2 separate regions of the Homo sapiens genome follow, and region 1 is linked to region 2. Evidence: fine-mapped QTL for protein levels in blood plasma. A gene starts in region 2. The other region holds a variant in brackets. All regions are shown on one strand. Distances are between the middles of the regions.

What was found. PIP is the chance, under the fine-mapping model, that this variant and not a neighbour inherited with it causes the effect. Protein levels are from antibody-based Olink assays in UK Biobank. Linkage for the fine-mapping came from a reference panel and not from the study's own genotypes, which makes the PIPs less certain.
Region 1: its variant is fine-mapped to the plasma level of the MCEMP1 protein (UK Biobank, PIP above 0.99).

The regions. Positions count from the first base shown.
Region 1 is chr19:7,651,424-7,656,799 of GRCh38, forward strand. No RefSeq gene overlaps it. Among named protein-coding and RNA genes, the nearest start is that of RETN, 15 kb to the right of the region's middle. The variant G/A (reference allele first, on the strand shown) is at 3,060.
Region 2 is chr19:7,674,851-7,680,226 of GRCh38, forward strand. MCEMP1 (mast cell expressed membrane protein 1) reads left to right here and starts at 2,240. Exons shown (of 7, transcript NM_174918.3): 1 at 2,240-2,325; 2 at 2,787-2,876; 3 at 3,254-3,391; 4 at 3,500-3,550; 5 at 3,641-3,754; 6 at 4,074-4,133; 7 at 4,248-4,979. The coding sequence starts at 2,271. The coding sequence ends at 4,264. RefSeq lists an enhancer at 3,207-3,276.

The DNA.
Region 1 (5,376 bases), 23 kb before region 2:
TGCAGTGGTGCGATCTCGATTCACTGTAACCTCTGCCTCCTGGGTTCAAGCGATTCTCCTGCCTCAGCCTCCCAAAAAGCTGGGATCACAGACGTGCGACACCATGCCCAGCGAATTTTTGTACTTTTAGTAGAGATGGGGTTTTGCCATGTTGGCCAGGCTGGTCTCTAACTCCTGGGCTGAAGACCTCCCACCTCAGCCTCCCAAAATGCAGGAATTAGAGGTGTGAGCCACTGTGCCCAGCCAATCTCTACAATACTCTTTTTATTTTATTTTATATTATATTATATTTATTTATTTATTTATTTTTTGGAGATGGAGTCTCGCTCCGTCGCCCAGGCTGGAGTGCAGTGGCATGATCTCAGCTCACTGCAACCTCCGCCTCCCCGGTTCAACCGATTCTTCTGTCTCAGCCTCCCGAGTAGCTGGGACTACAGGTGCGTGCCACCACGCCCAGCTAATTTTTGTATTTTTAGTAGAGACGGGGTTTCACCATGTTGGCCGGGATGGTCTCGAACTCCTGACGCCGTGATCCACCTGCCTTGGCCTCCCAAAGTGCTGGGATTACAGGAGTGAGCCACCGCGCCCGGCCAATACTCGTTTTAATAAAAATTTTAAAATGTATTCACGCCTAACTGGGTAGTTACTTGATACAATAAATGATCTTTTCTAGATTAAGAAAAAAGAAAAAAAAACATTTAAACTCAATTTCCTGGGAAGCCGCAGTTTTGCGCCGGGAGTGGCTTGTGTAGGCACGCGCTGCGAACGCCAGGGGGCGCTGCGGCGCAATTTCCCGGTTTCTTTGATCTTCCGCGTCTGTAACTGGAGATGAGGTGACCCGAATTAGACACGACGGGGAAGTAGGTCAGGGGTTATTCCGTGGTTCTCAGCGGAGACAAAAGTCTGTTGCTTAAACCGCCTCTGCCTCTGCTCCTTACTTATACCCAGGTGATGCAATGTCTTCACACTAAAGGCAAATATTGAGTCTACAAATATTTATGTGTCCCTGTGGGCGGCGGCAGCTGACAATATCGGGTCCTAACGAGCACGAAGTCAAGCTCCCTCTGCACGCTTTATGCAGATCCTCAAAACCCTCCTGTGAGGATCGCTGGAGCCTAGGAGTTCGAGGCTGCAGTGAGCTATGATTGTGCCTCTGCCCTCCAGCCTGGGTGAGAAAGCGAGAAGTTGTGTTAAAAACAAAAAAAAAGTTGGGGGGCCGGGCGCGGTGGCTCACGTCTGTAATCCCAGCACTTTGGGAGGCCGAGGCGGGCGGATCACGAGGTCAGGAGTTCAAGACCAGTCTAGCCAACATGGTGAAACCCTGTCTCTACTAAAAATACAAAAATTAGCCGGGCGTGGTGGTGGGCGCCTGTAATCCCAGCTACTCGGGAGGCTGAGGCAGGAGAATCGCTTGAAACCGGAAGGCAGAGGTTGCAGTGAGCCATCATGCCACTGCACTCCAGCCTGGGCAACAAGAGCGAAACCCTGTCTCAAAAAAAAAAAAAAAATTATCCTTTGAGATCCCTTCCCCCAAGTCCATTTCCCATCTCATGGTGAACCTGGCTGCTGTTCTTCAAACACACCACACTGTCCCTGCCCCAGAACCTTTGCACCTGCTATTCCCATCATCCGCAATGCTGTGCCTTGCAAGCTATTGTACTCCTTCCTCCTTCCCTTCCCCAGCTGGGAGAGGCCCCTGCTTTACTTCCTTGTGGTATCCCCACTTAGGGTGCTTTCTTTCTGGTTCTCTTCTGGTACCGAGGAATGATCCTCATTCTGGATTTGGCAGGTTGCTTCCTCTCTCCCCATCCCTGCCCCAATGTTTACCCTATAAATGGCTTAGAACCACATGCTCTATTGGAATAAGGGTCAGTTGCAGCCAGAATAATATCATGCTGGTAGGGCCGGGTACTTCCTGGTACATCACATCAGGGGGTCCATAACGTCATGTCACTACGATTGATGGGTGGGTTTGGGGAATGTCCCTGGTCCCCAGTAACTCTCCACATAAAGATGTTAACAGGAGCTGGGCCCAGTGGCTCACGCCTGTAGTTCCCAGCACTTTGGGAGGCCAAGGCAGGAGGATCACTTAGGCCCAGGAGTTTGAGACCAGCCTGGGCAACATAGCAAAACCCTGTCTCTACTAAAAATAAAATAAAGACCGGGCACGGTGGCTCATACCTGTAATCCCAGCACTTTGGGAGGCTGAGATGGGCGGATCACTTGAGGTCAGGAGTTCAAGACCAGCCTGGCCAACATGATGAAACCCCGTCTCTACCAAAAAACCAAAAATTAACCAGGCGTGGTGGTGCACACCTGTTATCCCAGCTACTCAGGAAGCTGAGGTAGGAGAATAACTTGAATCCAGGAGGCGGAGGTTGCAGTGAGCTGAGATCATGCCATTGCACTCCAGCCTGGGTGACAGAGTAAGACTCTGTCTCAAAAAATAAATAAATAAAATACAACAAAATAAAATAATTAGCCAGATGTGGCAGCAATTGCTTGTAGTCCCAGCTACATGGGAGGCTGAGGTGGGAAGATCACTTGAGTCCAAGAGGTTGAGGCTGCACTGAGTTATGATCTCGGCACTGCACTCCAGTTTGGGCGATAGAGTGAGACCCTGTCTCATAAAAAATAAAAATAAAAAAGGAAAGAAAAGAAAAAAAGTCATTAGCAGCCATCAATTTTGTTGTTGTTATTGTTTGTTTGTTTGTTTTTGAGATAGAGTTTCGCTCTTGTTGCCCAGGCTGGAGTGCAGTGATGCAATCTTGGCTCACTGCAATCTCCACCTCCAGGGTTCAATCAATTCTCCTGCCTCAGCCTCCCAAGAAGCTGGGACTACAAGCATGAGCCACCATGCCAGGCTAATTTTTGTATTTTTAGTAGAGACGGGGTCTCACCATGGTGGCCAAGCTGGTCTTGAACTCCTGACCTCAAATGATTCACCTGCCTCATCCTCCTAAAGTGCTGGGATTACAGGCATCAGCCACCGTGCCTGGCCCGCCATCCATTTTTGATTCATTACTCTCTTGAGGATTATGTCCAACTTTATCATTCCT[G/A]CTACTGGAATTAGCTGTGGTTCTTCTGAAAAAGGCTTTCTGCTTCCCTCCGGAACTAGCTGGTTTGTACAGAAAGTGACAACGTGATACATTGACTTATGTATTATTTGTGGAATGCCTTGAGGCAAGCGGTTACATGAGCTCAGCAGAAGAGCCTGGAATGGGCACAGCCCTGAGGGTCACGTGTGGCTCCCTTGGAAGCATCTAGGGAGCACCCAGGAACGATTGGCTGCCATAGTAATTACTATCTAATTTATTAGATATAGTAAAAATAAATTTATTACTAATTATCACTAACGATTCTGATTACTGGGTGAGAACAATGGTGATCTCATGTATTTATGTGCATTACAGGGTGAGAGTTCTCCTTCCTGTGGCGTGCAGGAGATTCTAGAATAGAAACTCATTGAAAGAGTGAGAGGAAAACATTTGTGATCTTGAACCTGTTCCGCTTAAAAATACATGAGGGAGGCCGAGTGCGGTGGCTCACGCCTGTAATCCCAGCACTTTGGGAGGCCGAGTTGGGTGGATCACCTGAGGTCAGGAATTCGAGACCAGCCTGGCCAACACGGTGAAACCTCGTCACTACTAAAAATACAAAAATTAGCCAGGCATGGTGGCGGGCACCTGTAATCCCAGCTACTCGGGAGGCTGAGGCAGGAGAATCACTTGAACCCAGGGAGTGGAGGTTGCAGTGGGCCGAGATCATGCCACTGCACTCCAGCCTGGGTGGTACAGCAAGACTCTGTCTCAAAATAAGTAAATAGATAAATCGATTAATAAAAAATACATGAGAGGACGGGTGCAGTGGCTCATGCTGGTAATCCCAGCACTCTGGGAGGCCGAGGTGAAAGGATCATCTAAAGCTGGGAGTTTGAGACCAGCCTGGGCAATATAGCAAGACCCCTGCCTCTACAAAAAATGTAGCTGCACCTGGTGGCACACACCCAGCTACTTGGGAGGCTGAGGCAGGAAGATCACTTGAGTCTGGGAGGTGGAGGCTACAGTGAGCTGTGATTGCACCACTGCACTCCAGCCTGGGTGACAGAGCAAGACCTCATCTCCAAAAAAAACACAAATAACAAAAACGTGAGGGTCCAGAGAAATTAAAGCTGCGGGCTGGGCCAGCAGCAGTGGTGGTGGGATGGTGAAGCCAGCGACCCTAGCAGAGAAATCGGGGACAAAGGAATCAGTGCTGGAGACCTGCAGAGGAGGCGTCCTGGACCCAGACAGGAAAAGGAGGTGATGTAACTCAACGAAGCAAGGAAATCTCGTGGAAATGAGTAAGGTGACAAAGAGAGGCCACCCAGGGGGAGACCCAGACATTGAGGGTAGCTTCCCTTTTATTTTCTGTAAAGTTGCTCAAAAACCTTAAAACACAGTTGACCAACAGCTGCTGCCAAGAACATTGTGAAAAGGTTTCTGGGTAAGGAAATGGCCCTGCGAATGGGAAGGTTCCGCTCTGGTGGGATCAGAGATGAGGTGTCCAGGGCTGGGATAGGCAGGCCAGGATAGCAAAGCCCTGGCAGACAGAGGCTCCATTTTGGGTGTCCTTCATTCCCTTCTTTTTTTTTTGAGGCGGAGTCTCGCCCTGTTACCTAGGCTGGAGTGCAGTGGCGCGATCTCGGCTCGCTGCAGCCTCTGCCTCCCGGGTTCAAGTGATTCTCCTGCCTCAGCCTCCCAAGCAGCTGGCATTACAGGCATGTGCCACCACGCCCGGCTAATTTTTGTATTTTTAGCAGAGACAGGCTTTTTCCATGTTGCCTAGGCAAATCTCGAACTCCTAATCAAGCAGTCCACCCGCCCTCAGCCTCCTTCATTCACTTCTGAGATGATTCAGTTTCTGTCTCTGTTGGCAGCTGGGAAAGTTCTGAAAAAAGAATGAAGAGCAGTCCAGGCGTGGTGGCTCGCAACTGTAATCCCAGCACTTTGGGAGGCTGAGGTGGGCAGATCACCTGAGCTTGGGAGTTGGAGACCAGCCTGACCAAAAAGGTGAAACCTCACCTCTACTAAAAATACAAAAATTAGCTGGAAATGGTGGTGGATGTCTGTAATCCCAGCTACTCAGGAGGCTGAGGCAGGAGAATCGCTTGAGCCTGGGAGGCAGAGGTTGCAGTGAGCTGAGATTGTCCCACTGCCCTGCAGCTTGGGTGACAGAGTGAGACTCTGTCTCAAAAAAAAAAAAAAGAAAAAGAAAAAGTAAAGACAATGGCATCAGACAAATTCTGGCTCTGAAATCTAGGCTAGCTGGCCTGGTGACTTTTTTTTTTTTTTTTTCATAGAGATGGGGTCTTGCTATGTTGCCCAGGCCGGGTTT
Region 2 (5,376 bases):
TCTTTTTTCTTTTTTTTTTTTTTTTTTTGACGGAGTTTTGCTCTTGTTGCCCAGGCTGGAGTGCAATGGCGCGATCTCGGCTCACTGCAACCTCCACCTCCCGGGTTCAAGTGATTCTCCTGTCTCAGCCTCCCGAGTGGCTGAGATTACAGGCGCCTGCCACCACGCCCAGTTAATTTTTGCATTTTTAGTAGAGACAGGGTTTTATCATATTGGTCAGGCTGGTGTCTCTAACTCCTGACCTCAGGTGATCCGCCCGCCTCAGACTCCCAAAGTGCTGTGATTACAGGCGTGAGCCACCACACCTGGCCAGAAAAAAATAAAAATAAAAATGTATGCCTGTAATCCCAGCACTTTGGGAGACCAAGGCTGGAGGATCAGTTGAACCCAGGAGATCAAGACCAGCCTGGACGGCATATTGAGACCCTCATCTCTACAAAAAATAAGAAAAATTAGACTGGGCCACGGTGGCTGATGCTTGTAATCCCAGCACTTTGGGAGGCCAAGGCGGGTAGATCACGTGAAGTCAGGAGTTCGAGACCAGCCTGACCAACATGGGGAAACCCCGTCTCTACTAAAAATACAAAATTAGCCGGGGGTGGTGGTGCATGCCTGTAATCCCAGCTACTTGGGAGGCTGAGGCAGGAGAATGACTTGAACCTGGGATGCGGAGGTTGCAGTGAGCTGAGATAGCGTCATTGCACTCCAGCCTGGGTGACAAGCACAAAACTCCATCTCAAAAAAGGAGAAAAATTAGCCAGGTGAAGTCGTGCCCACCTGTAATTTCAGCTACTCGGGAAGCCGAGGACGAAGGATTACTTGAGCCAGGGAGGTCAAAGCTGCAGTGAGCCATGATCACGCTGCTGCACCCCGGCCTGGGCAACAGAGTGAAACCCTGTCTCAAAAAAAAATTATTAAAAAACATTTAAAGAGACAGGGTCTTGCTATGTTGCTCACGCTGGTCTCAAACTCCTGGCCTCAAATGATCCTCCTACCTCAGCCTCCTGGGTAGCTGGGACTACAGAGCGAGCCACCATACCCAGCTACTTTGTGCCTTTTGTAACCCCAGTTTTCAAGATCAGATAAACACAAAGTGAACTAAGACACCTTCTAGACAGAGTGCGGGCATGTGAACGCATGCTTGTGTCTATTTTTCTGAGTGTCACAATGCAAATAGTATGCAAATGAGTTTGTGATGTGTGTCCGTGTGCAGACCTGTGTGTGTACATGTGTGAGAGAGAGTATCTGGGTAGATAAGCAGATGGATGGATGAGAATGAGAAACCTGGAGTTTCCAGGTGCAGAGGAAACTGTTCCTCCAGGGTTCTTTTTTGAGACAGAGTTTCCCTCTTGTCACCCATTCTGGAGTGCAATGGTGTGATCTCCGCTCACTGCAGCCTCCGCCTCCCAGGTTTAAGCGATTCTCCTGCCTCAGCCTCCTGAGTAGCTAGGATTACAGGCGCTCGCCACCACGCCCAGCTAATTTTTGTATTTTTAGTAGAGACGGGGTTTCACCATGTTAGCCAGGCTGGTTTCAAACTCCTGACCTCAGATGATCCACCCACCTCAGCCTCCCAGAGTGCTGGGATTACAGGCGTGAGCCACCGCACCCAGCCTCCTCCAGGGTTGTATAAAAGCAGGGGATTTGGGGAGGGAGGGAAGGATGTGGGTCTGTCCTCAGTCCCAGATGTGGGTGTGGCGTTCCAGTGGTTAGTTCCCGTTGCCTCACATCTGTGCTTTTCCTCCACGGGGACTTGTAGAAGTAGAAGAACTTCTTGGGGGTGGAGCTGAGGGGTGGAGCTGAGGCTGGAGGGAGGAAGGTGTGGGGGGACCCAGGGGTCCTGTCTCCAAGCCTGGTTGCTCTTACGCGAAAAGTTGGGACACTGAGGTGTCACAGCTTCTCTTTTGAAATGGAGAGGAGGTAGGAGGGTGAGGTCCATCCAGGTAGACACAGACACACACAGAGACCACAGCTTCCTGTAACATTTCCGAGTGTCGAATTCCATCTCCCGGTCTAGAGGTTTTTCTTCTTGGTCCTTCCTGAGACCTCTTGGCTCCCAAGAGCCTCTTGATCGGGGCAGGAATGAGGGTGCCCCAGGGTGCGAGAGTCGTGGATCCCTGAAAAGAGGAGGCTGCTCCCCCTCTTTCTTCCCCCCACCTCCAGATTTCCTCATCTGCCCACACCTTCCGGTGGGCGGGGACGTGTATGGACAAATTTGCGGGCTGGGGACCATGGAAGTGGAGGAAATCTACAAGCACCAGGAAGTCAAGATGCAAGCACCAGCCTTCAGGGACAAGAAACAGGGGGTCTCAGCCAAGAATCAAGGTTAGGGAACTCGAGGTGGAAGGGAGGGGTTAAGAAGGAGAGATTGGGGGGCCGGGGGCTTTTGCTCATGTCTGTAATCCTAGCACTTTGGGAGGCTGAGGCGGGAGGATTGCGTGAGCCCTGGAGGTGGAGACTGGCCTGGGCAACATAGGGAGACTCTGTCTGTAAAAAATAAAAATAAAAAAAGAAGGAGAGTTCAGATGGGAGAGGTAAGGGGTCAAAGGTGGGGGCCGGGGGCTCCTTCCCCTCCAAGATGTGTGGATGTGTGTGTGGATGTGTGTGTGGTGTGATCACTCAAACTCTCACACACCCGCTCCACTTAACCAAAAAGCAGATTTTAGCTTCTCACTCCTTATCTTTCACCCCCTACAATTTATTGAGTGCAAAGGGTTGGGTAAAACAAGATCCCGGATCCACTCTCCACACCACAGAGCTCTGAGCAGATCTCCAACCCCTCCCAGGTGCCCATGACCCAGACTATGAGAATATCACCTTGGCCTTCAAAAATCAGGACCATGCAAAGGGTGGTCATTCACGACCCACGAGCCAAGGTGAGCAGACACCCACCTGCTCACATCCCATCACCTTGGGAAGGGGCAGGTGGGCGGGCAACTGCAGGGCCCCCGGGGCTGCGTGGAAGGGAGGAAGCGATGGGGAAGGAAGAGGTGACAGCTGTTGACGTGCTAATGAGGTCTGTTGATGATGACAATGTTGGGGAATGCTGGAGAGGGGGTCTGTGATGGTGACGGTGTTAGATCGCTGAGGGTGGCTGGTGGTGGCAGTGTTGTTGACGATGATGACAAGCTGCATGACCACAGCTGCTGATGGTTTTGAGAGGAGCGAGGTGTCCATGGTGTTAGAGACAGTGAGGATGGTTTGAGTGGTGGTGCTGGCCCCTCAAGGTCACTTTGCTGCCTCTTTGCTCCAGTCCCAGCCCAGTGCAGGCCGCCCTCAGACTCCACCCAGGTCCCCTGCTGGTTGTACAGAGCCATCCTGAGCCTGTACATCCTCCTGGCCCTGGCCTTTGTCCTCTGCATCATCCTGTCAGCCTTCATCATGGTGAAGAGTGAGTACTTCTTGGGAGGAGGGTGCTGGGGGGCCTAGACTTTCTCCCTTGTCCTTCTCTCTCTCTCTCCCTGGGTGCTTCAAGGATTTTCCTGCCCCTCCTGAACAGATGCTGAGATGTCCAAGGAGCTGCTGGGCTTTAAAAGGGAGCTTTGGAATGGTGAGCGGAGGGTCTGAGGGAGACCCGTGGGGTCATGGTGGGGGTCTGGAGAGGGATGGATGCACAGACACCCCTGTTTCATGCCCTCAGTCTCAAACTCCGTACAAGCATGCGAAGAGAGACAGAAGAGAGGCTGGGATTCCGTTCAGCAGAGCATCACCATGGTCAGGAGCAAGATTGATAGATTAGAGACGACATTAGCAGGTGCCTGTGTAGTCTCGCCTTCTATGGGGGTTATTTGTCACCAATGCCCGGAGCTGAGCTGGGGGCAGGGGATTCAGGGGAGGAGAAAGCCGGGGTCCTACCCTCCCAAAGCTCAAGTTGTGGAGGGGCGATGGGTGTTACCATCTGGGTTGCTCTGTGGGTATTGAAAGGCTCCTGGGAACCCCAAATCCATGGGCTCTGCTGTACCCCAGGGTGGGTGTGGGGCAGGGGGGGTGCTTCCAAGGAAGGTGGGGGCTTTGTTTGAGGCTCCACCGCAGCTTGACTTATCTGTTCCCACCCAACCCTCCCCGCCCCCTAGGCATAAAAAACATTGACACAAAGGTACAGAAAATCTTGGAGGTGCTGCAGAAAATGCCACGTAAGTTGGCGCCCCGACAGGAGGTGGAGGAGGGTGGGTGGGGCTTCAGATTTAGCCCCAGCTCCTCTCCCAGGGGCGGGATCTGCCTCACTGTGGGTCTCTCCCCATCCCCAGAGTCCTCACCTCAATAAATGAGAGGACATTGTGGCAGCCAAAGCCACAACTTGGAAGATGGGGCTGCACCTGCCAACGAAGACGGGAAATGACCCCCCCCCCCCAGCCTAGTGTGAACCTGCCCCTCGTCCCACGTATAGAAAAACCTCGAGTCATGGTGAATGAGTGTCTCGGAGTTGCTCGTGTGTGTGTACACCTGCGTGCGTGTGTGTGCGTGTGTGCGCGTGTGTTCGTGTATGTGCGTGTGTGCGTGCGCGTGTGTGTGCATTTTGCAAAGGGTGGACATTTCAGTGTATCTCCCAGAAAGGTGATGAATGAATAGGACTGAGAGTCACAGTGAATGTGGCATGCATGCCTGTGTCATGTGACATATGTGAGTCTCGGCATGTCACGGTGGGTGGCTGTGTCTGAGCACCTCCAGCAGATGTCACTCTGAGTGTGGGTGTTGGTGACATGCATTGCACGGGCCTGTCTCCCTGTTTGTGTAAACATACTAGAGTATACTGCGGCGTGTTTTCTGTCTACCCATGTCATGGTGGGGGAGATTTATCTCCGTACATGTGGGTGTCGCCATGTGTGCCCTGTCACTATCTGTGGCTGGGTGAACGGCTGTGTCATTATGAGTGTGCCGAGTTATGCCACCCTGTGTGCTCAGGGCACATGCACACAGACATTTATCTCTGCACTCACATTTTGTGACTTATGAAGATAAATAAAGTCAAGGGAAAACAGCGTCGCTATGGGACCTGTTACTGGGGCAAGGGGAGGGGTTTTGGGACCTGGGGAGAGGGAGAGTCTGCACGTGACAATGACCCCGGGGCACCAGGGTGGGCGAGACTGAGTGCCCTGCGTGAGTACCTGTGCATCTGTGAATGAGTAACTCATTCCCTGTGTCTTCCCTGTGTCCCAGAGTGGGTGCCCCTGAGCATACAACATCTCCCTGAGTGTACCTGGGACCACGGATATATACAAGCCCTAAGCGTGTACCCACGTGTGTAATTGTGCCCGTGAGTGTATCTATGCCATTGAGCATGTATCCATGAGTGTACATGACCCTAAGGTACTATGTCCACCGCTCATGCATGCACTTGATTTGTTGTTGTTGTTGTTTGTTTTTGTTTTTTTGAGA